Linked DNA regions of Homo sapiens. The protein of the gene in region 1 purifies or fractionates together with the protein of each later gene. This does not show direct contact. Each region holds a gene or a part of one and is shown in the gene's direction. Other genes may lie near its edges.

The links.
Region 2: the proteins of UCK2 (region 1) and IAH1 purify together in Homo sapiens (affinity purification with mass spectrometry; 2 studies listed by BioGRID and IntAct, with this or other methods). This does not show direct contact.
Region 3: the proteins of UCK2 (region 1) and ASB4 purify together in Homo sapiens (co-immunoprecipitation; one large-scale study listed by IntAct). This does not show direct contact.
Region 4: the proteins of UCK2 (region 1) and UPP1 fractionate together in Homo sapiens (co-fractionation; one large-scale study listed by BioGRID). This does not show direct contact.
Region 5: the proteins of UCK2 (region 1) and SERPIND1 purify together in Homo sapiens (co-immunoprecipitation; one large-scale study listed by IntAct). This does not show direct contact.
Region 6: the proteins of UCK2 (region 1) and SLC18A2 purify together in Homo sapiens (co-immunoprecipitation; one large-scale study listed by IntAct). This does not show direct contact.

The regions. Positions count from the first base shown.
Region 1 is NC_000001.11:165,900,331-165,904,146, forward strand, and holds part of UCK2 (uridine-cytidine kinase 2), read left to right. Parts: intron 1-2,851; coding exon 2,852-2,949; intron 2,950-3,816. UniProt on the Homo sapiens protein: Phosphorylates uridine and cytidine to uridine monophosphate and cytidine monophosphate. Does not phosphorylate deoxyribonucleosides or purine ribonucleosides. Can use ATP or GTP as a phosphate donor.
Region 2 is NC_000002.12:9,480,837-9,484,652, forward strand, and holds part of IAH1 (isoamyl acetate-hydrolyzing esterase 1 homolog), read left to right. Parts: intron 1-449; coding exon 450-611; intron 612-3,595; coding exon 3,596-3,714; intron 3,715-3,816. UniProt on the Homo sapiens protein: Probable lipase.
Region 3 is NC_000007.14:95,523,738-95,527,553, forward strand, and holds part of ASB4 (ankyrin repeat and SOCS box protein 4), read left to right. Parts: intron 1-3,816.
Region 4 is NC_000007.14:48,106,089-48,109,376, forward strand, and holds the end of UPP1 (uridine phosphorylase 1), read left to right. Parts: intron 1-784; coding exon 785-994; intron 995-1,272; coding exon 1,273-1,419; intron 1,420-2,129; coding exon 2,130-2,269; 3' UTR 2,270-2,648; downstream 2,649-3,288. UniProt on the Homo sapiens protein: Catalyzes the reversible phosphorylytic cleavage of uridine to uracil and ribose-1-phosphate which can then be utilized as carbon and energy sources or in the rescue of pyrimidine bases for nucleotide synthesis.
Region 5 is NC_000022.11:20,777,113-20,780,612, forward strand, and holds part of SERPIND1 (heparin cofactor 2 precursor), read left to right. Parts: intron 1-2,184; 5' UTR 2,185-2,200; coding exon 2,201-3,089; intron 3,090-3,500. UniProt on the Homo sapiens protein: Thrombin inhibitor activated by the glycosaminoglycans, heparin or dermatan sulfate. In the presence of the latter, HC-II becomes the predominant thrombin inhibitor in place of antithrombin III (AT-III).
Region 6 is NC_000010.11:117,265,024-117,268,839, forward strand, and holds part of SLC18A2 (synaptic vesicular amine transporter), read left to right. Parts: intron 1-1,709; coding exon 1,710-1,788; intron 1,789-1,960; coding exon 1,961-2,012; intron 2,013-2,649; coding exon 2,650-2,713; intron 2,714-3,816. UniProt on the Homo sapiens protein: Electrogenic antiporter that exchanges one cationic monoamine with two intravesicular protons across the membrane of secretory and synaptic vesicles.

The DNA.
Region 1 (3,816 bases):
ATCTCTGTATTCCTGAATAGTAACTGTATGAGGAAGGTACCATTATTGTCCCTGTTTTATAGTTAAGGAACTTAAGATTCAAAGAGGTTAAAGTCACTTGTCGAAGTTCACAGAGGTAGGAGTTATTGGGGTTAGGATTCAGGTCCAGGGCAGTTTTCCCCCCAGAGCCCATAGAGGTAGAACAAGAAGCAGCTTTTGGGCTACAGAGCAGCTTCACTGTGATTTACCTCCTCCTCCTACTTTCTGCACGACCAGTTTCCTCTCTCCAGTGACAAAACAGCTGAAGCCACCAGATCTACAGAAGGAAGGGGGCTGAAGGCCCAGGCTGAGGGCAGTTAGGAGGACTACGTGACAGGGTGTGGACGTGCACTGTGTGTGCGTGCGTGCGTTTGTGTGCATGTGTGTTTGTGTGTGTGCACGTGTGTGTGTGTGTGTGCTGGGAGAAGGACAAAGCTTCCTCCAGTGCTAAAGCCTTCAGCAATTGTATGAAAAGCATGTGTTGCAAAACAATCCAGCATCAGGCGTTTGCAGGGCTTTAAGTAAAAGCTGCCCAAGCACGGGTGTGTTTGTTTTTTCCCTAGCTCTGATACCCTTTTGATCTGGTTTCCTTTTTTCTTTGGGCTTTATCTGGAGACGTGTGAAGAATTGGAGGCCGCGCTGGCTGTGTGTTTTGGCGGTGCTACTCTGGTTAGCCATGTGTGCCGGAGCTCTGGGGACTTCTGGGGGGTGAGCCACGTGGCAGCTCCTTAGGGCTCCTTCTTAGCGAGTCTCCCAGCAGATCTGCCAGAGCAGCAGGTCGGCAGCAGGAGCCCAGGTCCAGCGTTGCAGGGGTGGGGAAAACCATTTCCTGGCTGGAGAAGGCTGCTGCTGGGCTGGGTGGGCAAGTCCTGACACATTAGCGATCAGCCAACTGTTTTATTACCAGGTCTCCCATGGAGAAAACACTTCGTAAATCGAGGAGCTGTTACAAAAGTCGAATGGCAGCATCATTAGTGCCCAGCTTTCTGGAAATGTGGATTTCCTGACAGTTTTCTCACCTTCTCATCTTATAGATTTCCTGTCAGCCTGGATCATAGCCATGACAGCCTCCCCGTTCCCTGGCCTCTCTGTGCATGCACCTGTGCATGTGTGTATAAAGACAGAATTATTTAGACAAATGGCTTTCAGAAGTTCCGTCACAGATATACCCCATGTTCGTTTACAGTGAGTTTCACCCAACATTTGAGTCTATTTACTGAGAAATGGTTGGGAAGGAGCTGAAGAGCCACTGCAAATGATTGTAGATGGATGTGGTAACTTTTTGGGGTGAAAGATTTAGCAGCTCAGATGATAAGGTTAGATTAAGATAGCATTTAAAATGACATCTGCAAAGAGAGGCAGTTTTAATTAAGAGAATCTACTTCCAAACTCCCTACTCATGGGGAAACTAAGGCTCATGTACAGCGGCAGAATGAGGGTGATCAGTCTTCTTTCTATTTATTGACAGAAGACTCTATTTAATAAAGAGTGTATGGGCTGCCTATAATTCCAGCACTTTGGGAGGCCGAGGCAGAAGGATCACTTGAGCCCAAGAATTCAAGACTAGCCTGGGCAACAAAGCAAGACCCCGTGTCTACCAAAAAAAAAAAAAAAAAAGGCTCACACCTGTAATTCCCAGCACTTTGGGAGGCTGAGGCGGGTGGATCAGGAAGTCAGGAGATCGAGACCATCCTGGCTAACACGGTGAAACCCCCATCTCTACTAAAAATACAAAAAATTAGCCAGGCGTGGTGGCAGGTGCCTGTAGTCTCAGCTACTCGGGAGGCTGAGGCAGGAGAATCGCTTGAACCCCAGAGGCAGAGGTTGTAGTGAGCTGAGATCGCGCCACTGCACTCCAGCCTGGGTGACAGAGTGATGAGACTCTGTCTCAAAAACAAACAAACAAAAAATTAGTCCATTGAGGTGGTGTGTGCCTGTAGTCCCAGCTACTTGGGAAGTTGAGGTGGGAGGATCACTTGCTCAAGCCCAGGAGGTTGAGGCTGTAGTGAGCTATGACTGTGCTACTGCACTACAACCTGTGTGACAGAGCAAGACACCTTGTATTAAAAGAAAAAAAAATTTTTTAAAGAAAAAAAAAAAAGAATGGTAAAAGCCCCTGGATAAAACTGACCGGGGGAAGAAGGTAGAAGACAGAAGATGGTGAGTTTGTTGTCAATTTGGGCTTCATCTCAGCCCCAGCCCACCATTCTCTAGGCCATGGTTTTCTTATCTTTCACTGAGTGATTTTTTTTTTTTTTTTTTTTTTTTTTTGGCAAACCTCTGTGCATGAGGTAGGTGGAAATGGTTAACCATGGCTGGGTCCTCAGCCTGGCCTGGGCTCCATGCTGCAGAGGGGGCATGGGTGGGAGCTGGGAGCAGTGAGCTGATGCCTGATCAGTGGGTCGCTGGACTTCTGAACGCAGGTAAGTGCATGCAAGGAGGCAGCGTGCAGCCCAGCCCTCTCGGGGCCCAGATTGCTTCTTGTTAACAGTGAGCTCTCCAGGAGTGCCCTGCTTTTTTAAAAAATTCACACTGAAATTTTGTTTGGAGCAAATGTTGCTTGAAACAAGAAGGCTGTTGGCCTCCATGGACAGCCTTTTGTTTCAAAGAGCATTGTGTCATTGCCAAGTTTGACCATTGTAAGATGTCAGAATGTAACTTGTCTTTTCCGAAGCCGCTGCTGATCTGCTCTTGGTCAAGCCTCTCAGGATTCCAGCTTGAGAATCATCTAGAGTAATTGTGGAGCCTGTGGGAGCTAGGTCCACCCCATGAAGGGCGGGTGTGTGCTGGCTCCTACACCGTTTTTTGATTCTTGTTTTCCCTTCTCTTACAGTATTAAGGGACATCAGCGAGAGAGGCAGGGATCTTGAGCAGATTTTATCTCAGTACATTACGTTCGTCAAGCCTGCCTTTGAGGAATTCTGCTTGCCAGTGAGTTGTGTTCTTGGTTTGTTTTTGTTGAATGTAGAATTTAAAATTTGATGATATAAACGAAGGTGTGCAAGTTTGTGGAGCTCCCCTGCCTGAATCTCACTCCTCTCTCTGAGTGATCCTCTGTCCTGAAGTCCTAAGAGAGGGCAGCCCTTGGTCCTTGTGTCCTCTGTGTTCTCCAGGAGCCCTGTCCTGCTGTTCTTTCTTTGGGTAGCCCTGTAGGGTCCTGCCAGTCCTTAGGCAGGTCATTTAATTCCCAGCTAGTTCTAGGTTTCTTGCTTGGTGGGGTCATGGTGTGAGACCGTTTACTGAGGGTGTATCATATCCAAGGAGAGTCCTCAGCCATTTGGATCTCTGAAGGGTCTGCAATGGGTGACGTATGGATGCACTGGGTGCTGTGCCCCGAGATGTTCCCCTCTGAGCCTCTCCTGCCATCACCACTGAGCCCTGCTTTGAGCTTGTCTTTAGCTCCCATTTGGAGACTGTCATGCCTTACTGGAATAAGCTTCCTTCCCTTCACCCTTGCAGACTCACCAGTCCTTCCTGTGGCAGCTAGGAATTCTCTAGTGAGGTGGCTTTCAGAGAAGGAAGAACACAGAGAGTTGGCCCTCAGCCCAGGAAAGACAGGAAGGGGCATGTTGAGGGAAGGCTACCAGAGACAAGAGGTGTGGTGTGCTGGGGCTGCAGAAGGAGAAGTATTTAACTCAGGAGAATCCTACTGAGTCAATGAGTCTTCTCCAGCTTGGCCAAACCATGGTCTGGCTCCTGAATTATTTATAGTTAAGCTCTGAGACCGGGAGGAAGGGAAGGAAGAGCTTGGGACTTAACCTGGTCTTGGTTGAGATACACTGGGAAGGCTGGAATCTC
Region 2 (3,816 bases), on another chromosome or scaffold:
AAACTCTTAGCTGTTTTGATTTTCAGTCCTAGGAGGGAGACCTTATTATCTTCATTTTCCCAATGAGGTACAGAAAGTCTAAGTATTTATCTGCGGTTCTGTGGCGAGGAGTGACAAAGCCAGGATTTGAACCTAGGCCGTCTCACCCAACAGGGTGGGCTCTTTAATTTCTTTACAAATTCAACCTAATTGATGTAATAACCATCTGGATACTAGTGACGAAAAGACAAGAGTACTTACGGTGCCCCTAGTTAGAGCCTTTGAAGTCTTGTTTTATGAAGAACTATACATTTTAATTCATAAGGAGAAAACCTTCTCTTTGTGTCCTTGGTGTTAAACAATCCCCCCAGTGACATCATGAATAACAGGCATTTGCAGAAGTGTGTTCACCTGAATTGTCACTTATAATAAATATGCATCTGGTGAGGACTCATGTTTCTCTTGAGCAGATGAGAATCCCAAGCAGCACATTCCCCTGGAGGAGTACGCTGCGAACCTAAAGAGCATGGTGCAGTACCTGAAGTCCGTGGACATCCCTGAGAATCGAGTCATTCTCATCACGCCGACCCCACTTTGTGAAACAGCCTGGGAAGAACAGTGCATCATACAAGGTAAACAAACCACAGCCAATCTCGGCAAATCTGGATAGGAATGCTGAGGGAGGAACTCTGATAGGACAGTGGTTTCCTGCCTGGGGCTTCTGTTTCTTAGGGGCTCGGTATGTCCATTTCAGTCTGTTTTCAATCCAAAATTATTAAATTATAGCTTCCATTATGTTATACCTGAGACCTTTTTTGACCTAGAAAAGGGATTCTGGCTTTGGATAGTCAGGAGGGAACCGCGGGCCTGGCATCTGCTGACCTTTACAGTTACCAGACTCCAGGGTGCACATGAAGGCCACTGAGATCTGTGTAGAGCTGTGGTGCTCGGCCTGCGGGGGCTGATGCTGATGTGCCTTGACTTGGAAGTCCACACCTGGGGCTTTTTACTGGTCCACAGAAGCTGGGGGTAGGAATGATCAGATAGGAGTCGCCAGCACTCCATATACTTGGGTTTCACATCCCTCAAGTGCTGTGTTTTCAATCCACCTTTGACTGAAAAACCTCTGCACATAAGTGGACCTTCACGGTTCAAACCTGTGTTGTTCAAGGGTCAGCTGTATGTTAATGTTGAAAATGTGCATTATGGAAGTTCTCTTTTTTTTTTTTTTTTGGAGATAGAGTCTGGCTCTGTCAGCCAGGCTGGAGTGCAGTGGCACGATCTCGGCTCACTGCAACCTTTGCCTCCTGGGCTCAAGCAATTCTGCCTCAGCCTCCTGAGTAGCTGGGATTATGGGTGTGCACCACCACGCCCGGCTAATTTTTGCATTTTTAGTAGAGACGGGTTTCACCATGTTGGCCAGGCTGGTCTCGAACTCCTGACCTCAGGTAATCTGCCCGACTCAGCCTCCCAAAGTGCTGGGATTACAGGCGTGAGCCACCGTTCCTGGACTGGAAGTTTTCTAAGCTGCCCAGAACTCAACATTCTAGGACAAATGACTGGCTTTGCAACACAGAACAGCTATTTCTCAAAGTGTGGTCTGACTCTGAGTTAACTGGGATTTTTAGGTAGATTTCTGGACCCATTTTCAGCACTCCAGATGTTTCTTACACACACCACAGCACACATACCACAACTTCATGGAAGGCTGTTATTGTCCCTACTTTACCAGTGGAGAAATGGAGTCTTAGAGAGGCTAAGTAACCGGCCCAAGATCACACAGCCAGCAACACAACCAGGAATCAAATCCAGCAAGTGTGACTTCACAGCTCAAGTCCTTACTGTTGTATGAGTTTACTGTTGAGTGGGGTTGTAGCTATGTCCCTTGCTCTCAAAGGGCCTGTCATCCTTAGAGAAGGATCCAATGCGTTCTCAAGTCACAAACAGCATATGCCAAGGGGTGCCACACACCGGAGGCACAGACAAACGGGGAGAAACCCCAGCCTGCGGGACGTGGTGACAGTAGGTTCTGGGCATCACATCAGGGCAGAGGGGCCCTATTGCTGTGCATGAGACACCAGAGTGTTCTGCAGGGAAGGGGAGGTGTTTAAGGCCCACAAAGCTCCCCTGGAGACAACTTCAGAGCCCCAGCTTGCTTCTGGGCCTGCAGCCCTAACTGCTTTGGGGGGCAGTGTCATCTTGGCTTTAACAAAAGGGGAAAAATGTTACATAGCATGGTCCACAGAAGCTGTTTAGACTTCTTTTTGTCTACTGTTTCCCAGGAAAATAATATATATGAAATTCTGAATGTTTAATTTCATTTCCCCTTTCTAGCCTTGAATGTAGCCCAATGCAGACTTTTTAAAAGGTCAGTGATGGGCAAAGCAGGTAGAGGAGGGGTCACATCTCAATAACTGGTCCCCTAGAAATTCAGCAGGTTATTTTTTGAGATGGTCTTGCTGTGTCACCCAGGCTGTGTAGGGCAGTGGATTACTCATAGCTCACTGCAGCCTCCACCTCTGGGCTCAGGTGATCTTCTTGCCTCAGCCTCCCAAGTAGCTGGAACCACAGGCATGTGCAACCATGCTCAGCTAATTTTTTAAATTTTTTTGTAGGGATGGGGTAGCTAGTTATAATCTAGGTGAATTTTATAAACAATTGATCCCAAGTATGAATCAAAGCTGGTGAATAGTTTCTTCGCTGTGATGTAGAGCCTGGGCCAGCATAGGTCCTCCTGTGGCCCGCATCCAGTTGCCCATATCCTCATGCTTTCTCTTTAATACCATTCTGTAGTCCGCCTCTCGCCAGCCCTCACTGTCCTGTTTGCAGCCTCCTGAGCCTTCTCCCCTAGCCCCAGCCCCACCTTCCAAACCAACCTAGCACAATCCCCAGATACTGCACTCCAGCCTTCCCTGGTGCAGCTCCCTGGGAGGATGAGGCAGCCTGCACTTGTGTTAGATACACTCAATCGTTCTGTGCTAGCTGCTTTGCTGGTGTTTAGTCTCTTAATCCTGCCAATATTCCTGCAACTAGGTAGGCACTGTCATCATAAGAATGCAGAAAGCTTCAGGACGGTTAAGCTGTTCAGGCACACCGCTATTTAGTGAAAATTGTAGGCATCAAAACGAAGGTCTCTTTGTCTAAAGCCGACAAATGATTTTGCTGTGTTGCGGTCCAGCTGTTACATGTAAGAAGCCAGCGGTGTCAGCGCAGCGTTCAGCTTCCATGGCCTGGCATTTCCTACTAGTGCAGCCCTTACCAGCCCCCAGCCCAGCTCCTGCAGCCGGCACTCTCCAAGCAGCCCAGCCCTCCTGGGCCTTTCCTGCCTCTCTGCCTCTGTTCAAGGTGTCCTCTAGAACATCCTCCCTGGCGCCTCAGAAGATTCCGGTTACCACTGAAGGCTCCTTCTTCCCACTGCACCTTGTCCTCTGCTGGGTAGAGCAGCACACCAGTAACCTGCAAGGCTCATCAACATATACCCTAAACCCCGGGGCTGGCCCAAGTGGGGTCAATATTTAATGGCATTTTGAAACTGTCTAGATGAGTGGAGCAGAACTTACACAAGGGCCAGCACTTGGGTTTACCAACTGCCACCTCTATTTCTTCTCTTCAATAGGTTGCAAACTAAATCGCCTGAACTCTGTTGTTGGTGAATATGCCAATGCGTGTTTACAAGTGGCCCAAGACTGTGGGACTGACGTACTTGACCTGTGGACCCTGATGCAGGACAGCCAGGTACGGTGGCTTGCTCGGTCCTCTCGGGGTAAATAGGATCACACAGAAGTAAACCAGGTGTGTGTGCAGCAGCTTTCCCTAGAAAGGCCCTGCTTAGCTAAG
Region 3 (3,816 bases), on another chromosome or scaffold:
TTAAGATCAAAATTTTGGAAAAAATCAGCACAGTAGGGTAAACTTACTCTAAGGAGTATGTAGTTATTTTAAATTATGTTTAAAATGACTATATAATTACATGGAAATGCTTATAAGAGTAATATAAAAGCATTGTTGGTCAGTAAAAATATTAACGTGTCTAACTTCATTGGTAATTAGGGAAACCATTCAAATGCAATGAGATATCACTCTGCAACCAAGAAATTGGCTAAAATTAAATAGACGGAAAATACCAATGTTGATAAGGATGTAATACAATGAGAAACCCTCACCCATGGCTTATCGGAGTGTAAGCTGGTACAACTGCTTATTTGACAGTACTTAATGAAGTTGAAGATATGCATACCCAGTGACCCAGCAATTCCACTCATAGATGTAGAGCCCAGAGAAATCCCTGCACGTGAGCACCAGAGTACAAGAATGTGCAAGAATGCCCATGGCATCAGTGCTTGGGATAGCCTGACACGGGCAATGCCCATCTACAGTTGAATGGATAAATTGTGGATTACTCGTGCTAAAAGACAGACATAATAAAATGAACAAATGAGAACTAAACAGCACAAGACAGATTATTTTCACCAATACAATATTGAGTGAAAGAAGCAAGTCAAAAGAATTTGTGTTTATGATTCCATTTATTCAAAGTTCAAAAATTGGAAAATGGAAGGATTTTCTGGGGCTAAGAGTGTCTAATTTCTTGACCAAGGATGTGATTAGAAGGTGATGGCTTTACAATAATTAAAAAAAACTGTACATATATATTTTATATACTATGTAACGTATGTTATGTGTTATGGGTCGAATTGTGCGCCACCCCCCAAAACACACACACACAAAGATACGTTCAAGTTCCAACCTCCAATACCTCAGCACGTGAATTTATTTGGAAATAAGGTTGCTGCAGATGTAATTACTTAAGTTATGTTAAAATCATACTAGAGTAAGGTTGTTCCCTATTGCAGTATGACTGGTGTTCTTATAAGATGACCATGTGGAGACACAAATGAGACAGCCAAGTATAATCGGGTCCCCAGAGACCCTCTAACCAGCCTGTGCACTGGGAGAATGGGATGGAGCTATGGAAGTTCCTGCCGTTTGCAGTGGGGAGCAGCCTGGCCTCTCCTTTTCCTGGGTGGTAACCTGGGATCCAGTCTGTAAGATGGGGGCCTGTTAACAGGAACCCCTCTTACTTTGCTGAGAGTCTTTTTCCTTTTTGCCAAATAAATTCTGTAACCACTCACCCTTCAAAGTGTCTGCGTGCCTAAATTAACCTGGTCATGTGACAAGAACCCAGATTTTCCTGCAACACAGAGACACAGAGAAAATGCCATGTGAAGGTGAAGGCAGAGACTAGAGTGATAGGTCTACAAGCCAAGAACTTCCAGCCATCACCAGAAGGTAGGAGAGAGGTCTGAGGCAGATTCTCCTCCAAAGTCTCTGGAAGAAACCAACCCTAGACACTTTAATTTTGGACTTCCAGTCTCCAGAGGTGTGGGAGAATAAATTTCAGTTGTTTTAAGCTACCCAGTGTGTGGTATTTTGTTAGGGCAGCTCTTGGAAACTAATACATTGTATTTTCACATTAAAAATATATTTCAAAGTTCCCAGGAGTTGATGTTTCTGGTCTCTAATTTATTGAATAAATCACAAAATCTAAAATAAAAAAGTAGCCAAATAATTGTACTTTATATATTTCCTGGAAAAGTTACACTGGCGACACAATTCAAGTATAAAAATAAGGAACTCCTATTCAGAAAAGGAAACCATGTAGCATATCTAGTTGCACCAACAGGTCAAAGATCAATCGTAAATGTCCAAGTACATTAAAAAAGGATGTGGTTTGTTCCAAGTTGGCCTGTAAGAATTTCATCCTGACCCTTTGATTCTCTTCCTTACTGGAAATTCTCCAGCATCTGAAGTGACCCTGCACATGGCTTCTGGGAAGACATTCTCATTCGTTCCATTTCACTCCAGAGCAAAGACGAGCTGACCTGAAATAAGACCTGACCCAGAACTTCTCTAGGGCAGAATACTGATAAACACAGATGGCTTCATGAAAGACCATCTTTGGTTACAATTCTGCCTTCTACAAGTTAGGAATACAGTCTCAGAGTTTACAGAGCAATGTACTCTTGGGTACCTTCCTTGGGGACTGAGTTTGTATAGGATATTGAGCATGCTTGTAGGAGTTTTGGCTTTCTCAAATATGTTCCATATGATCAGGAGATGCCATAAATAAGGGCATAAAGGAACAATACATGGTAAACGGATTTTTTTTAAAGCTAACAAAATGCAATGTTATCTTTCTAGTACTTTCTGGTTTTCATATAGTAAAAGAGAGTAAACTACAGAAAAATTTTCCTTCAGAAAAGTAATATGAGGTGGAATAGAACAGTGATAAGGAATTTCGAAGCCAGTCTGTCTGTTTTCAAACCTTGGTTCAACAATGAGGAAGGGGTCCCCAGTGGGAGAGAGCCCCAGGTGGGGAAGAACAATGAACAGTTGTTCTGAGAAATGGGAAATCACAAGCAATGACTTCTTCCTGGCACAATGACCTTGTTCTGTGCGCACAATGACCTCCTTCAGCACAGCAGCTCCCCCCAGCACAACTCTATAAAACTTCGCTGCAGTTGCACCCTGCCTCTACACAGCCCCTTCTCTGCTGTGCTGCCGGTTGCAACTTTGCAACGCATTTTCATACATACTTTCTCTAATAAATCTGCCTTTCTTTACCTACAACTGTCTTGGTAAATTACTTTACCACCTGTGACACCGGCCCCAGCTAGTTGCACTCGTGACAACTAGCTGGTTGTACTTTTGGCCAATTATTAACCTCTCTGAGTACAAATTTCTTCATCCATAAAATTAGGATTAAAAACTGCACCCACTGCAAAGGATTACTTGGAAGGTTCAATGAGGCAATATATGAAAAGCATTTAGCCCAGAATGTTTCACATGGTTAAGTGCTTAATAAATACTAGTTACTAGCATAATAATAACAATAATAATAATAAGTCTGTACAGACTAATACTTGAAGTAGCTATAAAAAATTCCAGCAGCGCTGATATTAGAGTTGGCCCCCTAAGGGTCATTTGGTTCACCTCATTAAATTAGGCAGAGAAGGAAAATTTCAGCTTCTTGAGTTGACCACTCTCACATTTAACATTTCTAATTAGAAAAACAAAATTCACTTAAGTTTTCTAGTCTGTTAAATAAATGGGTTGGATTAAGTAATTCTAAGGAGCTTTCCAAGTACAAAAAATTCCTATTTCTAACATCCTTTGTCAACCATAAATAAAACATTTTGCAGTCTCTGAATCATTTTCTCTCTTTCAATGAATATTTCTACTATACCAGCTTCTGCCCCTTTTGATGAAAAATATAACCTTTAGGCTAGTTTGGTGACTAAAGTCGTGTGTGTGTGTGCATGTGTATGTGTGTGTGTGCATGCACAGGCATATGTGGTGGTGGTGGTGCTGCGTTCCAAGAAAGCCTCACAGACTTGGGCAGCCCTAATACTGCAATTTCAGTCAAAGGGATGGGAAGTTTCCATACCACTAAAGTTTACTTGCATCAAACTTTTAGGTTTATCTGCTATGAAAGAGAAGAAAAGTATTATTTTGTGGAATATTCTAAACAGTTGATTTTTAAAGAGTCAAGTGTTGTGACATAACATTTGTTTTTAATGATATTAGCAAATATCATTGTTATGTTGATTAAGAAGATTTAGTTGTAGAAATCTCTTGGTATTTCCAAATCCACCTGGGAGTAAGAAGTGAAATTCAGCAACGCTC
Region 4 (3,288 bases), on another chromosome or scaffold:
TTTAGGGTGTGGGACTTCATTATACTGTTCTAGTCTGCCTTTTGCTGGTTTACTTTTCAAGTATTTGCCTGAAATCTTAAATATTAACAAGGTATGAAACAGGGATCAATGAAACACATCATGGTATATGGTTCAGTGACAGACAACAGTGGGAAATCGCCGTGAATGGAAGCAAGAAATATGGGACAAAGTACTTGAAGGTTCCTGGCCATTTTTATTTTATTCTTTTTTTTTTCTTTCGAAATGGAGTTTGCTCTTTTTGCCCATGCTGGAGTGCAGTGGCGTGATCTTGGCTCACTGCAACCTCTGCCTCCTGGGTTCAAGTGATTCTCCCGCCTCAGTCTCCCAAGTAGCTGGGATTACAGACACCCGGCACAATGCCTGGCTAATTTTTGTATTTTTAGTAGAGATGGGGTCTCACCATGTTGGCCAGGCTGGTCTTGAACTCCTGACCTCAGGTGATCTGCTCGTCTTGGCCTCCCAAAGTGCTTGGGATTACAGGCGTGGGCCACTGCACCCAGCCCTCTACTTTGTTTTTTGTGCCTTTCTCTTCCATAGTGTCCATAATGATCATGCATTAATTACTTTCATAGCTTAAAAAAAAGTTGAATGGGAAAAATGGGTCACTGTGTATTTGAGAACAGTACTGGATGCTTCGTGTTTGGATGTGTGGGTGGATCTGCTTCTTTCTTCCATATGCTCTGCTGTGTGCTCCCTGGCTGCCCTGCTTTAATTTTATTTTGTTTTACACCCTGCATATCTTGATGTCTGCTTTTTTCCTCAGGTCTGGAGCCCGGCACTGTGGTCATAACAGAGCAGGCAGTGGATACCTGCTTCAAGGCAGAGTTTGAGCAGATTGTCCTGGGGAAGCGGGTCATCCGGAAAACGGACCTTAACAAGAAGCTGGTGCAGGAGCTGTTGCTGTGTTCTGCAGAGCTGAGCGAGTTCACCACAGTGGTGGGGAACACCATGTGCACCTTGGACTTCTATGAAGGTGAGGCAGCGGATACGAGGAGGCATCTTTCAGCCAGGGAACCCTGGTCCGTCCCCTGAGCCTGCCTTCTCGCTGTGGACTGGCGTTTCCACTTGCCAGGCTGCTGTCTCAGTTACACTTCGCCCAGAGTGGTTATAATGACCCGTTTGAGTGGTCATTATAGGCAGGACCTGGATGGGTCTTGCTTGTCCCTGTGTCCTTCTGGGCATCAGTGGCGCTGATGTGTTGTAGGAGCTTCTCACATGCATGTGGTTCTCATGTCTCCATGTGTGCCTCAGGGCAAGGCCGTCTGGATGGGGCTCTCTGCTCCTACACGGAGAAGGACAAGCAGGCGTATCTGGAGGCAGCCTATGCAGCCGGCGTCCGCAATATCGAGATGGAGTCCTCGGTGTTTGCCGCCATGTGCAGCGCCTGCGGCCTCCAAGGTAAGCGGCACTTGATGGGCCTCGGCGTCCCCTCCTCCCTTCACTTCTGCTCTCCTGGAGCCCCTCGCTGGGGCCCCTCCTCCTGGGGCACCCCGATACCCATTTCTGGTTTCTGTTTCCGCTGCCCCCAAGTCACTTTCTGACATATGTGTTGTCACCACAATGCTGTTCAATGTCTGACTGTCACACCCTGACAAAATGCAGGATTCTCAGTGACCTTGTGCAGGAAAAATGACAAAAAAGCTTTTGCTGCCCCATGAGGCTGCCACCAGGTCTATAAAAAACTCGGCTTTCAAAGCGCTTTGGCTTTCTGAATTGTGGTTCATCTACCCTCAAGGTACTAGCCACCCTTGAAGGCCAGCTCACAGCTCTGCAGAATTCCCTTATCACCTCGGCCAAAACGTGCCTTTCAAGGTGGTGCTTGCAGCCCTGAGCTGGTCCTGGAATGGTGAATTCCTTTTGGAAGCAGGCACGAGAATAAGGGAGGGACAGGGCAGGGTGGTGTCAGAGAGGGAGGAGTCTTCCGAGCCCCTGGACCAGCGCCTTTCCCTCCCGCACTCCATCCTCCGGCCCCGCCTGACTGCATGGGCAGCCTGGTTTCCTGAGGAGGCAGAGAGGCTGCTCCTCAGAGCTCGTGGGTTCTTCATCCCGTCCCTGTGAAATGTTAGACCCCCGGCACCTTGCCTTGATGTGGTCTTTGTCCTTTGCAGCGGCCGTGGTGTGTGTCACCCTCCTGAACCGCCTGGAAGGGGACCAGATCAGCAGCCCTCGCAATGTGCTCAGCGAGTACCAGCAGAGGCCGCAGCGGCTGGTGAGCTACTTCATCAAGAAGAAACTGAGCAAGGCCTGAGCGCTGCCCTGCACCTCCGCAGACCTGCTGTGATGACTTGCCATTAAAAGCATTGTCCAAAATCCCCTGTTGTGTGGACTTTGAGCACACTTTACACAAGAATCTAGAAAATCAGATCGCGATTAAGAGACAGAGAATCTTGGATTAACCGCATGGGAGATGTTCTTCCTTTTGAAGTTTCATTGGAGCATTTTCAATGATGTTAGCCTGATTTGGGGTTTCTTCAAGAACATTCTACCAAATTTTTGTACTATTTCTAGGGAAATTTTTCAGACTTTAAAATTCTAATGGTAGTCAGATTTCATGTCACTAAACAAGAAATCTGACAATAGTGCCAGGAAACTAATTTCCTGATACATTAAAAAAATTCCATGCACCACTTGCAATGAGAGATGACTGAAAACCAATGAAGCAGACAGCAGGGGTGTTTGAGAAATAATGCGTACCTAAACAGGCATATACACAGTTTCCAAATTATAGTCACACACATTCCCAAAACCATCCACACCAGCTTAATCACACGACAGTAATCCTCCCACCCATTGTCCACAATGCTAGTGTCTTGATCCAAGTACCTAGGGATGGGAAACGGGACACCTGGGCTCAAGACAGCTTGTCCTATTGTTTCTGTCCATGGCTTGTCAGCCTTGCATTCATTCCTGGCCTCACACTGACATTCCTAGACTCCGTGTCTCTTAGCTTCCTTCTCGGTTGCACCTTATAGTGGAGGGGAGAATCCAGGGTGGCCCCTCTGTCTGTCTCGGGTGAGTCTGGCAGCAGCTACTTGGGCAGGCCTAGGTCCCCAGCTCAGGGGCAGCTGGGTCTTGGGTCTTCACTGGCTTGTGGGTTGCCCAGGCTCCTGGCTGACTTCTCAACTCTCCCCACATCAGTGTGGCCACTTTCTGGTATTTATTGTTTCCTGTCCTTGAGATGGGCTTATTTCCTGGTGGGCTCTGAGGGACACTCCCATGCTCAGGGGCTCTGCTTAGCAGTTTGCTGTGTGACTTGGAGTGGCCAGG
Region 5 (3,500 bases), on another chromosome or scaffold:
CGTGATCACGGCTCACTGCAGACTCAAGTGATCCTCCTACTTCAGCCTCTCAAGTAGATGGGACCACAGGCGTGTGCCATCACACCAGGCTAATTATTTTTCTTTTCTTTTTTTTTTTTTTGAGACGGAGTTTCGCTCTTTTTGCCCAGGCTGGAGTGCAATGGTGCGATCTTGGCTCACCACAACCTCTGCCTCCTGAATTCAAACGAATCTCCTGCCTCAGCCTCCTAAGTATCTGGGATTACAGGCATGCGCCACCACGCCGGCTAATTTTTTTGTATTTTTTGTAGAGACAGGGTTTCTCCATGTTGGCCAGGCTGGTCTCGAACTCCCGACCTCAGATGATCCGCCCACCTCGGCCTCCCAAAGTGCTGGGATTACTGACCTGAGCCACCGCACCCAGCCTATTTATTTAATTTTTCACAGAGATGAGGTCTTGCTATGTTGCCCACACTGGTCTTGAGCTCCTGGGCTCAAGTGATCTTCCTGCCTTGGTCTCCCAGTGTTGGGATTATAGGCGTAAGCCACAGCGCCTGGCCGGCAGTTCTTTCTGGGGTGATTAGAAGTTGGGACCATGTATTACCTGTCTGAGTCAGCATTATAAACACCTATGGTCACTGTCCTGGCAAAACATGGAATCATCAAAGCTCATCTAACCAGAGTGCAGTTAATAACCAGGAAGTAAGCAAGAGAAAGACAAAGGATTTGGCAGTCAAAACAGATTTGACAGGCCAAGTCAGATCCTCCTCTGAACGAGTCAGAGGAACAAATAAAGACAGGATTGCCATAATGCCTCTGTGCTAAAAGCTTATCTTGTTTACTTAAATAAAGGGAGTGCCCCTCAGGTCTTGAGTAAGAGCTTGCTGACATCACCCTCACACAGACTTTATCTCTTGTTTCTAACCCTGTGTTAGAAGCAGTAACACAGAAGATTTAGTTGCTCCTGACAGCAGTGGGAGCTATTGTCTAAGAGATACAAAGGAGAAAAAAGTATACCTGCAGCAAGTGATATCACCTCTGGGGCTGCCACCACATCACCTCACTACGCCCTGAGGGGGTCTCAGCACTAGACAAGTTCCAAATCTTTTGCAAATTAAACAACCCCAGGTCAGGCGTGGTGGCTTATGCCTGTAATCCCAGCACTTTGGGGGGCTGAGGTGGGTGGATCACCTGAGGTCAGGAGTTTGAGACCAGCCTGGCCAACAGAGCAAAACCCCATCTCTACTAAACAAAATACAAAAATTAACCAGGCGTAGTGGTGTGCACCTGTAGTCCCAGCTACTTGGGAGGCTGAGGCAAGAGAATTGCTTGAGTCCAGGAGGCCGAAGTTGCAGTAAGCCGAGATCGCGCCACTGCACTCCAGCCTGGGTGACAGAGTGAGACTCCATTTCAAAAAATAAAAACAACAAAAGCCAATTACAACAACAACAACAAAAAAACAACGAATTAAACAACCCCAAAGATTGCACAAATTTCAAGTATCTTTAGAATATGTTTTCAGAAAGCCTGGCCCATGGACATTTTTCAACAGCATCTCCATTGCAAAGGTGGAATGGTGTGAGTCACACAGGCATGGCTGAGTCCCACTAATGCACATCCCTTCTAGGTACTCTCCAATCACCAGCCCCAGGTGCCCACTCAAGCCCAGCTCTTAGTGAGGTTTCCCTGACTCTCTGGGCACTTCCACTCCTACCACACAGGGTAGAGCCACACCCCTTTCCGTACCCCCATGTGCTCTGGCAGCATTATTTTGAGAGCCTTCGCTTTACTGCACGTCTGTCCCATCTGTCCCCTGACTGGTCCATGAGCCCCTGGTGGGAACTTTGTCTCTGGTAACTAAACACTGTCTGGAGGTGGTGGACAAGGTGTCTGGAGAAAAACAAACTCCTCCCTGGGATGCCTGAGCTCCCAGGATTCTAGAAGGTTAGTTTTGCAAACCTTTAAAGAAGGGATTTTCATCAAGGGGCCCACAGATCCTTCATTGAGGTTTATGAGTCCCACATCAAAGGTTGGGTGTCTATCTACATCAGATTCTCTTAAAGTCCATGATCCTAAAACAGTTAAGAACTAATGCTGTGAGGGCCTCTTCCTGGGTCAAAGCCACAGGGAACCTGCCATGTGGATGCTGCAGCGGGGTGTGGATCAGCCAGGCCGCCTTTCACTGTGTTCTGTTTTCCCTCCCAGCTTTAGCTCCGCCAAAATGAAACACTCATTAAACGCACTTCTCATTTTCCTCATCATAACATCTGCGTGGGGTGGGAGCAAAGGCCCGCTGGATCAGCTAGAGAAAGGAGGGGAAACTGCTCAGTCTGCAGATCCCCAGTGGGAGCAGTTAAATAACAAAAACCTGAGCATGCCTCTTCTCCCTGCCGACTTCCACAAGGAAAACACCGTCACCAACGACTGGATTCCAGAGGGGGAGGAGGACGACGACTATCTGGACCTGGAGAAGATATTCAGTGAAGACGACGACTACATCGACATCGTCGACAGTCTGTCAGTTTCCCCGACAGACTCTGATGTGAGTGCTGGGAACATCCTCCAGCTTTTTCATGGCAAGAGCCGGATCCAGCGTCTTAACATCCTCAACGCCAAGTTCGCTTTCAACCTCTACCGAGTGCTGAAAGACCAGGTCAACACTTTCGATAACATCTTCATAGCACCCGTTGGCATTTCTACTGCGATGGGTATGATTTCCTTAGGTCTGAAGGGAGAGACCCATGAACAAGTGCACTCGATTTTGCATTTTAAAGACTTTGTTAATGCCAGCAGCAAGTATGAAATCACGACCATTCATAATCTCTTCCGTAAGCTGACTCATCGCCTCTTCAGGAGGAATTTTGGGTACACACTGCGGTCAGTCAATGACCTTTATATCCAGAAGCAGTTTCCAATCCTGCTTGACTTCAAAACTAAAGTAAGAGAGTATTACTTTGCTGAGGCCCAGATAGCTGACTTCTCAGACCCTGCCTTCATATCAAAAACCAACAACCACATCATGAAGCTCACCAAGGGCCTCATAAAAGATGCTCTGGAGAATATAGACCCTGCTACCCAGATGATGATTCTCAACTGCATCTACTTCAAAGGTAAGAGGCACCTTTACAGTTCTCACAGCAAACCCACAACATACTATTTTTGTATGTGGGTAGATTGAATGCCAAGAACTGTACTGTAGCTATAATTTATCCAGGAAAACTAGACACAAGATTGACTCTGGAACGGGGACAGGGAAGGCCAAGCTGAAGTGACAGTAGCATCTGACACTTACTGAGCCCTAACTCTGTGCTTTAACACAGCCTTGTGAGGTCATCACTGTTATTAGCATCCCCATTTTACAGAGGAAGCCACCAACACATGAAGTAAAAGGATGGGCTGGGCGCGGTGGCTCACGCCTGTAATCCCAGCACTTTGGGAGGCCGAGGCAGGCAGATCACTTGAGGTCAGGAGTTCGAGATCAGCCTGACCAACAGACCAACATGGTGAAAACCTGGCTCTAC
Region 6 (3,816 bases), on another chromosome or scaffold:
GCTGCAGGCCACTGCTGTGCTGGGCACGTGGCTGTCAGTAAATGTTTGCTCAATCAGATTACACTGAACAATTATTTGACCACCACATATTGCTAAGCATGACAGAAATAATTCTCTGGAAAATGAAATGAGATTGCTCTTTATTAGTGTTTCCCAGAACTCCCATGTCTAGAATGATCTGGTTTTGGATTTAGCTCATGGAGCCATTTATTTGGAAGTCCCTGCTGTGTTGGAAGACTCAGCCTGTTTCTGGGTTTGATGGTAGACGTTCGTGCTTTATCCTAAAGAGACAAGATCACACTTGCCCGTGAGTGTGTGGCCAGCTGCTGGGATGAGAAGGACCTCCAGGCCCCATGCATTTTGAGTGTAGCAGGCACTCGGTCATCTGATATCTACCTGCATGTCTCACTTATGCAGTCCTCTGATTGAGAACAAAGTAACTTTTACTATGTGTGGGCAAGGCTTGGAATCAAGTCTGGTATATCTGATTTCAAGGAAAAAATACTAAAATCACTAGGAGTTTGAAAAGCAGTCACTCATAAAGAGATTGTCCTGTGGTTCTGAGGACCACACACAGCTTGGATGGATGAGGACCAGACACAGCTGATGTGGACAATTCCCCTGTAGCCAAGCTGGGTCTGATAATGGTTAGGCCTTTCTGTTCAATGCGGAGGACAGGTTCAAGGCCACTGCTGCCACCACCAGCAGGGAATCACCCTGGGCACATCAGAACCTGGGGGATGCAGGTGTCCTCTATGGGGACAGCAATAAAACTTGGATAGGAGGCCGGACGTGGTGGCTCACGCCTGTAATCCCAGCACTTTGGGAGGCTGAGGCAGGCGGATCACCTGAGGTCAGGAGTTTGAGCCCAGCCTGGCCAACATGTTGAAACTCAGTCTCTACTAAAAATACAAAAATTAACTAGGCGTGGTGGCGCATGCCTGTCGTCTCAGCTACTTGGGAGGCTGAGGCAAGAGAATCACTTGAACCTGGGAGGCAGAGGTTGCAGTGAGCCAAGATCGTGCCGCTGCACTCCAGCCTGGGTGACAGAGCGAGACTCCATCTCAAAAAAAAAAAAAAAAAAAAAATCTGACTTGACAACAAAAAATGACCAGGCAGACATTTATGTTTCTGACATAGAAAAATGTTCATAAAGCTAACTGAAACAAGCAGGATAGAGTATAATCCCTTTTTTTTGTAAATCAAAACACACATAAATATATTTATATATGTAAATAAACTTACAGGAGAAAATAACTGTGGTGATTATCTGAGTAATGGATGGGGTTTGGGGTAATTTTAACATTTTTCTTTTTGTTTATCTCACGGTTCCCTAATTCTTTCAATGACTGCGTCTTACTTCTGTCGGATGAAATCACACATAAGATTGCAGGTGCTGAGCTCCCAGGCAGGAGCTGTTTGTATTGGCCCACGTGTGAAGCCCACCACCAGCCAGAGATGGAGGCAAGATGAAGCAGTTGATAGAGAAAGGACTTTCATTTCTGGAGTGTCTCAGCAGCTTTGTGTGGAGGATAAGCCACGTGGGTCCAGACCGGATCCGGCAGGCGCCGGATATTAGCTGCTGGGGTGTGGGCCCCGGGGCTTCGTTTTATCTGCTCTCATCAACATTGTGGTGTCTACAGTTATTACTTTTTCTAACATATGACTGATATCAGCACTGATAAGGTCTCCTTTTCATAAATTTACAGGCGTTGCCTTCTTGCCAGCTAGTATCTCTTATCTCATTGGAACCAATATTTTTGGGATACTTGCACACAAAATGGGGAGGTAAGATGATATGAAAACAACACTCATTCTGTTACAATAATGTAGTTCTTTCAAAAAATTCTAAGTTGTTTCTGCCTTTGCTGTTACAAGTAATTGTTTTGATTTTCATTGAAAATTTGGACTAGAAAAAAATCAAATGATCATTTCTTGATGGTGCTTTTTCTTTTGGTAGGTGGCTTTGTGCTCTTCTGGGAATGATAATTGTTGGAGTCAGCATTTTATGTGTGAGTAAAAGATGGCATTTGACAAGTGGGAACAATCTGTGAATAAAACTTGCGCTTTGGGCAAGAATCACCAAGAAACATTTTACGTTTGAGTTTGTTGATGTTTTATTACAGCTTTCATTTTATTCTAATTTTTTATCATCTTAAAAATGTTTGGACAAGACTTTCCAAGGAGTGTATTTTCATTTTATGTCAGAAATTATTTAAAATGTTTTATTTCACAGTTTAACTTTTCCCCTGCATCATCTTAAGCTTGACAGTGTCTTAAACACTTCAGGACAACCAACCTGAAACAATAGCAAGATGTTTTTCTAGAATAAAATCTCTTCTACCAATGGCCAATATCCATCCCTCATGAGGCCTACTTGTTCTTGTCAAAACTTGAGGGTGGACTAGGCTGATCTTTCACATATGCCGGTGACAAGTTTTTCATGGTGGTCATAAAACTCGTTTCAAGCTTTGACTTTTAAAGATTTGGAGGGTCCGGTTCTTCACAAACCCCACCCTTCTTCCTCCTGTTTTCTTCAGAAGGGAACAGGCATACCACGCTCAGAGAAAACACAAGTTCAAGACTTTCCGAGATGATTTAGAGTTGGATCTCTTGTTATTTTAGCATAATGTTTATTTCCTCTTACAGATTCCATTTGCAAAAAACATTTATGGACTCATAGCTCCGAACTTTGGAGTTGGTTTTGCAATTGGTAAGTCACACGAACCTTGTGCCTACATTTAAAACCGCTTTTCCACTAGGAAGGGTTCTTCTTCCTCTGGTAGACTGTAGTTCCTCAACCTAAATTTCCAGAATCTTAGAAGGAGGCTGCAGGCAGCTTAGCTAAATTACAGCCTGTCGATTCTCCGTGTAAAGACACCTGCTTCTATGCACTAGTCATTTATTTCCTGAAAACCAGTATTTTTTAAAAGCTGATATTTACAGAAGGAAACTGATGCTCCACTGCTGGGGCTGGGCAAACAAAGGAATCCCTTGCACAGAGCTCATTTTTGTGGACTCCTCCCTATGAGCAGGTCTTCTCATGAGGCTGGGGGCAAAGGCTTCACATATGTATTTTGAAGAGGTTTTAGTACAGACAAAGCAGACTAATGTGTTGATGACCGCCTGTGCTGCAGGAATTCCCATGGGCAAGGAGATGGGCTTTTGTAATGTTAAGAATGATAATATGTTAGGAAAAATCTGTCACTATTTTGAGTGAATGGTATACTTTTGTCTCTTATTTATAATATACCAATTGATCATGATAAAAATAAGTGCTCAGTCCACCCCTGTAGAAGCAGGAACGCAACCTTTGAGTGGTACAGTGGCACAGCATGGCTTTCACTGAGGACAGATGGTAGAAGGCTGCTGAGGCTGGGGTAGAACTCAGTATGGTACTCTAGGTCCTTCTCAGGTGACCGTTTGCCTGTCCTCTGCCTTGCCTCCCCTTGTCCTCCACTGTCTGGTTGGCCCATCTTTTTAGGGAGGGTGCTAGTCCTCTGGCGGCTCCCCTTGCCATTCTGCAGGTCTGGCAGAGTTGCAGGTTGCTAACTGTACGGCCCCTGGCCTGCATCCTTTTGGTGCTTCCCTGCTTTGCTGTTTTCTGGTTCACTTGTCCCTCACCACTCAGCACACCTGCATGCCTGACCCACCTCCTGCCAGTCACACCTGGGCCACACGCTTAGACTATGGGTGTTTCCAAGGTGGAGAATAATAGGGGGGACCAGAACGCCCCAGAACTCCAAGGAGTCCGAGAGATCATCTGGCCCTGCTCAGAAATTATGTGTGTGTATGTATGTTTATGTGTGTGTGTGT